Linked DNA regions of Homo sapiens: region 2 is reported to be linked to region 1. Evidence: microRNA targets listed by miRTarBase, many of them from high-throughput screens and not tested one by one. Region 1 holds a microRNA gene; the other region holds the end of a gene's coding sequence.
Evidence for each region. The annotated mature microRNA hsa-miR-4662a-5p reads UUAGCCAAUUGUCCAUCUUUAG and lies in region 1 at 2,103-2,124, opposite strand. An mRNA with a match to its seed (bases 2 to 7 or 8) in the 3' UTR can be bound and repressed. Matches are read on the target gene's strand: a 7mer-m8 pairs with bases 2 to 8, a 7mer-A1 pairs with bases 2 to 7 and ends in A, and an 8mer does both.

Region 1 (3,415 bases):
CCCAGGTCTCCCGCCCTCCATGCTGGTGTGCCTTGGTAGGAGTGTGGACCTGAACTACAACAGGTCATTCACCCAGGCCCCCAGCTCTCCATCCCACAAATGGGCAGGGAAAGGCAGGGAGGTATAAAACACCGGCTTCCTACCTTCTGCTTCGATCCACAGAGAAGACTTAGGCCAGAGTGGCCCTGCACGTCCGCCTTTCCCCTCTCAGGGAGTCCCTCTTTCTGGGTTTGAGTCTTGCCAGTCCGAAACACGTGCGAATAGAATCCCAAAAGCACAGGGCCCAGGCTTTTTTCTGGGCGATGTGCTGTTTTTTTTTTTATATCTCAGACTATGGCTGTTACTGTCCATGGGCTCAACTAATGCAGAGAATTGTAGGACATCTAGCCCTGCTCCTAAAGGAGGCAAAATGATCCTTATCATGCCTGTTATAGCCAAGGAAGGCTGGACCCAATTCCACAGAACTCGAGATGGCGCTTTTCATTTCAAAGAAAAGACACTATGAGCCTTTCTCATATTTCACAGCATGCTGTGTGTTGCACTTGACCTCTACTCTTGCCCTCAGCTTCCCCAGGTGGCCTCGCCTCCCTGCTGCAGCCCCAAAGCAGTAAAGCTACAGCTCTGGGCCATGGGCTGTGGCTTCAGTGATCTAGGACCTGATTCTCCTAAAAACCACAAATGGATAGTTCTTCCAAAGACCCAGGGTCCTCATAGAACTCTCTAGAAACAGTAATGATCTCCTTGGAGCTCAAACAGTCCCTGAGCTATCAGACCCTGCCAACACCAGGGCTTAATGCTCAGGGAACACATTTTATGAGAGCAACTGTCACTCCTGAGCTTCTGTGGGTCACTTGAAATCACCCAGTTATTTTTCACTCAGCTGAGGGGCAGTATAGTTCTGACGGGTGGCTTTGGGTTCACTGCCTTCAACTCCAGTCAGAAAACGTTAGTGCTGAAATGGATCCGGGGTACAAATAGTTGGGTTGTTGACATGCTTTCTTCTGTTGTATACATAAAGGTTCCACATACAAAAACCTATTTGCAAAGAGAGGTCAGATGCTTAAATGTGAATAATAAAAATGCTTATCCATGGGTACTCTAGTTTAATCTCCTCATTACAAGAGGAATCTGAGGCCCAGAGAGAGAAAGTGACTTGTCCAAAATCATACAACTAATATTGCAGCCAGCAATAGAACAAAGAGAGCTCAGGAATTCTGGGTCCCAGTGACTATGGAAAACAATTGTCTGAAATTTTACCACTAGAAATTGCTACTCCCTGCCCCATACTACCTGAGTCTTATTTAGGTAAACAGATAGTAAATATAAACATTATCATTGTAAAAAAATGTTTTAAAGACCAAATATATTTATAAAGTTTTTTAAAGTGATCTTTTGTACCCCTTTGTACTCTACCCAATCCCATTCATTTCCCGAAGGATGTCCGATGTTAACAAATGAGTGTCAAGTCCTTCTAGGCCTTTTTCTATGCACTTAGGAATGTGTTTACAATATATGACTGGGTTTTAAAAATACATACTTATATACTATATGTATGTAGATATAAGTATAAATTTATAAGCCATATTTATATATTATGCCATTTATAAATATAAAATCAAATTGTTCTGTTTTGAGACTTCCTTTGTTCACCTAACCTTGTGTCTTGGCACTTTTTCTCTCTCTTTTTTTTTTCTTTTTGAGATTTTGCTCTTGTTGCCCAGGCTGGAGTGCAATGGCACAATCTCAGCTCACTGCAACCTCCACCTCCCAGATTCAAGCGATTCTCCTGCCTCAGACTCCTGAGTAGCTGGGATTACAGGTGCCTGCCTCCATGCCCACCTAATTTTTGTATTTTTAGTAGAGACAGGGTTTCGCCATGTTGGCCAGGCTAGTCTCAAACTCCTGACCTCAGGTGATATAACCATCTTGGCCTCCCAAAGTGCTGGGATTACAGGTGTGAGCCACCGTGCCCATCCATGGCACTCTTTCCATGTTGGTCAATAGAATCTTGATGTTTTGTCGATGGCTTCATGGTATTCCATTGTATGGATGTACCACAATTTCTATTTAGCCAATTGTCTATCTTTAGGCATTCAGAATAGCTAAAGATGGACAATTGGCTAAATAGACACTGTGGTACACAATGGCTTTTTCTGTTGCAGCCATGGTTGCAGTAAACTTCCTTGTATATAAATCTCTGGGACATGAGCCAATGTTTCTTCAGAAGAGATACCTAGAAGTGAAGATGTGAGATCATTTGTCTACAGAAGGTTTCACTTTAAGTTGTAATGACTCGCCTTAATGTTGTCCAAAGGTTGTTTTTCTAAACCTTATTTGAGGGCCCACAACAGCCATAAACTTTTACTTATGTTTCACCTAGAATCATCACAGCAATCCTGTGAAAGCAAAGTATGATCCCTATTTTTCAAAAAAACTCACTGAAGTAGGAACAGACGAAAAATATCTCAATTTGTGAAAAAGCATTTACAAAAAAAAAAAAACATCTAACATCATACTTAATGGTGCCAACTGAACGTCTTCCCACTGAGATTGGGAATAAGACAAAGATGTCTGCTTTCAACATCTTCTTCAACAGGGTAGTAGAAGTTCTAGCCAGTGCAATATAGCAAGAAAAAGAAATACAAGACATACAGATTGAAAAGAAAGAAATAAAATCATCTCTATTTGCAGATAACATGATTGTCTATTTATACAATCCTAAAGAATCTAAAAAACATAAACTAAAATAAACCTCCTAGAATTAATAAGTGAATTAAGTAAGGTCACAGAATACATGATCAACACTCAAAAATCAAATGCATTTGTTTATCCTGTCAATGAACATGGGGAAACTGAAATTAAAAACAATACCATTTACAATCACTTCAAAGAAAATAAAATACTTAGGTATAAATACATATACTATGTCTCTGATGAAAATTACAAAATGCTGATGAAAAAATAAAGACCTACATAAATGAGGAGAAATACCATGTTCATAGACTGGAAGACTCATCATAGTGGAGATGTCAATTCTTCCCAAATTATCAATAGTTTAACACAATTCTTATCAAAATCCCAAAAAGATTTTGTAGACAAAGCCAAGCTTATTCTAAAATTTGTATGGGAGGCAAAAATTTTGAAAATAAAATAGCTGTGATAACTATTTTAAAAAGTAGGAGGAAGCACTCTACCTTGTGTTAAGTCTCACTATATAGCTACAGTTGCCAAGGTAGTATGATATTGGTGGAGAGATAAACCCACAAATCAATGAAACAGAATAGAGGACTCAGAAATAGACCCACAAAAATATACTCAACTGATTTTTTACCAAAAATACCAAAAGTGCAAAAGCGAGTGAATGAAGGAAGGAAACTCTTTTCAACAAGTGGTGTTGGAGCAAAAAACAAAACAA
Region 2 (3,376 bases), not on the chromosome of region 1:
TAAGCCAGCTGATCACATCTAAAATTCTTGGCATAATTTGAACCTAAAGTAATGAGCTCACTTCCCCAAGATGCAAAAAAGTAGTCTACCTGCTTTATAGTTACACCCTATATATAATCTGTATATATCCATATGTTTCTATATATTGCACTTAAATTTACAGGACTGTAGTAAGACGGCTGGGAGTACCTCAAAGAGGCAGAGAAGCAGCAGGCATAAACTTTCCTAAATCAAGTAAACAGTGTCAGGAATTCCGAGTGCTGGTTATAGGTATACCGAAACGCCTGATGACCCCTATCTAATTTCTAGTTATCTACACTTAGTCATTTACACACAGTCTCATTTGGCATCCAGAACATGTACACATGTGTGGTTCTATAGCACTCAGTGCTGGTCATACCATGTCATTTTTACTAGTGTTATATTAAAAGAAGACACTTTAGACCAAGGATATATACTTTTATGAAAATAAAACACACAGGTCTTCGATGTCAGGCCTCCAAGGTCTACCTCAAAGAAGACTGCCCTCAGAAGGCTTAACAAAGGATGCCAGCAAGTATGGATGGAACCAGACCACATCTCTCTTCAGCTCTCTGGTGTAGCAGGGCTAGAGACTCACTTCTATCCTAAGGACCATGAAAGTCTAAGCACAGAGGCTGAGCATTCAGTCTTTGGTCCCTGTATAAATCCAGGTCAAAAATCCTCTTGCCACCCTGGACAGCCTGGCTTGTTCAATTTAGAATATATTTCCACCAAATATCCAGAGGCCAGGCTGAAGTCATGCAGCAAAGCTCTGTTTTGGACTAATGGAGCTGCTCAGACTGACTTGCTCTGGGAGAGAACGGAGGAGCAAGCCTGGCAGTGGTGGCAGGAGGTTAAGTGCTACACAGACTGGTAATGGCAAGATGTGGGAGGATGGGCCCCTAGAGGAGCTGCTCCTTTTTCTGCCTCTCTCCCACATTCCTCACTCCCCAGAAAGGACCCACGTTCACAGGTGCGTGGTTATTATAAGACTTCCCAGAATACAGGCTCCATGAACTCAACCCATCACAGAGGGGATGGTATGATAAGGCCTAGAAATCAGGAGCATGTCTGGAGGCTACGGTTTTCTCTTTCCCAGAACTGAACACCAGATGGTAGCTTTTTAACCGTAGCTCAAAGGTCATTTTAAATCCACACATAAGCTAAAGAGATCCCTTCTGAGATGAAGGACAAAGAATAACTTTAAAAGCTAGGTGAAAAAAGAGGCACTTAAAGGAAAGATGTGTTCCAACTCTCCCATGCGAGTCTCCTGCTGTGAGTTGGCCCCGGGAGGACCAGCGCTGCCCCTTGCACGCCTTCAGCACCTTGAGTACACCTGCGGCTTACACATGCGCATGGTGAGCCTCTTGCTCAGCTCCCCTAGCAGCCAGATGGCAAAGCGAGTGAAAATTTATGTCATTCTTTTTAGAATTAAAAAAAAAACAAATCAAACAAACCAGAACTAAAATTTCACACACACAAAATGAATGCTACTCAGTTTCATTCCTTCCTCATGCTAGTTTTTAAATGATACTTGGTTCTTCAGGAAGGATGACCTGTGGCTTTACCCCCAAGACCTTGTATCCAATTACTAGACAATTATTCACAGCACCATGCACATTAAAGCAGACGGAAAAGAAGGCAACAAGCTAAGGGAAAAATCAAGGACCAACTGCCTGAGAAAATGGCAGGTACCTGGCCCAGAGATTAGAAAAGAAACAAGTTCTCAAAAGGAAATGGCCAAGATGATAGCCAAAGACCACAGCCCGAGTGGAAGCCAAGTTAACAAGCCCAGAGGATGCAGGTTTTCTCTGCCTGGCTCTTCTCTGGCCTCCCTCGGGAGCTTGTGTTCATGTTACATGGCATTTACACCACATACTTAGGGTCTACAATTCCCCATGAAGAAGTCAAAGAGATATTTAAAACCATTAATAAGCATAAGAGAGTTTCAAAACTGCCAGAATGAAGAACTTTGGCCACCACAAGTTTTTCCGTTTGAAACATTCTTGGTGCCATAATTTCTAAGAGCAACAACAAAGAGCACGACCACGACACACACGTAAGTCTTTTGACAAACCAACTCTAACCACTGCTGGCACCATGAGGATGAGAAAGAAATCACTAACCAAGAGTTGCTGGGCTGCTTAACCTTCCTTCAAAGCCAAAGGGTAGGTTTGAGTTATCTGTGCAACAAGATGGCAAGCACTGCTGCCATCAGACCCAGCTACTACTCAGTTAGACACATCTTGAAAACACTAAGTTAAACATCTAGGTTTAAGTATAACCTGCAAGATTCCCAAGGTTAGCCTTCTCAGCTTCCCCTAAATTTGTGGTTGTTGCTGTTGCTAGATGTAAAAATTTTTTAATTTCATTTTTCTTTATGTTGATGATGTTTTAATTTCTAGAATATTGTATGACATGGAACTATTCAGAATTCCTTTAAAAAGGAATCTGTCTTGATTAATAACATTATTAAGGTACTTTCAGGCTTTCCCTTAACTCCATCGAGAAGGAAGAGGGAGTATGTGAGTACATGTGCATGTAATGGGTCAGGAGGAACAGAAGCAAAGAAGGAAGCACGTGGGAAAGTGAGATGTCCATAAACTGAAAAACCAATTTACAGAAAGGCATCTGATGTATTTTCTAAATAAGGCCTTGATCAGGGTAACCAATCCTCTTTGTAGCACATTCTACACTGCCCATAAATAAAGGAGTCTCTTTAAATTAACATTTCCAGTATCAATGAACAGTCCAGAAATCCTCATTTCAAGCGTTCGATGAGTCCCTGTGTGAGTCCAAGGTGCAGAAGTTGTGTTCGGGAGAGGTTTGCAAGGTTAGGGAAGGCCGCAAGCAGCTTCTCCCATGCCAGTTCCAGCAGGCTAGGTACCACCAGCCAGATCTTAAACAATGACCCAGTCCGTTTGTTTTCATGGATGTTCACCACTCCTCCATGAATGTACATGCAACCAGCCTATGAGTAGTCAAAAGAGGACAAATTCAAACGGGAGAGAAACATACAAGGCTGAAGACTCAGTGGGGAAAAAGCATAGTAGATGGAATCAAAATGAAATGAAACAAGAATTCCTCACTGATCCCAATACCATGTGGAGATCAAGAGGGTTTAAATAATTAATGAATTACTAAGGGAAAAACTATATATATATATATATGATTTTTTTTTTTTTTGAGACAGAGTCTCACTCTGTCGCCCAGGCTGGAGTGCAGTGGCGCAATTTCAGCTCACTGCAAGCTCTCCGCCTCCCGGGTTCACGCCATTCTCCTGCTTCAGCCTCCAGAGTAGCTGGGAATACAGGCACGCGCCACCACGTCCGGCTAATTTTTTTTTGTATTTTTA

Region 2: miRTarBase lists KLHDC10 as a target of hsa-miR-4662a-5p. Seed matches in the 3' UTR shown: 7mer-m8 at 1,771-1,777.

The regions. Positions count from the first base shown.
Region 1 is chr8:124,820,699-124,824,113 of GRCh38, reverse strand. MIR4662A (microRNA 4662a) reads right to left here and starts at 2,129; the gene lies at 2,063-2,129. It overlaps MIR4662B (microRNA 4662b), which reads left to right and starts at 2,056; the gene lies at 2,056-2,136.
Region 2 is chr7:130,130,153-130,133,528 of GRCh38, reverse strand. KLHDC10 (kelch domain containing 10) reads right to left here. Exons shown (of 10, transcript NM_014997.4): 10 at 1-2,992. The coding sequence ends at 2,783. Among named protein-coding and RNA genes, the nearest start is that of LINC03008, 9.9 kb to the left of the region's middle.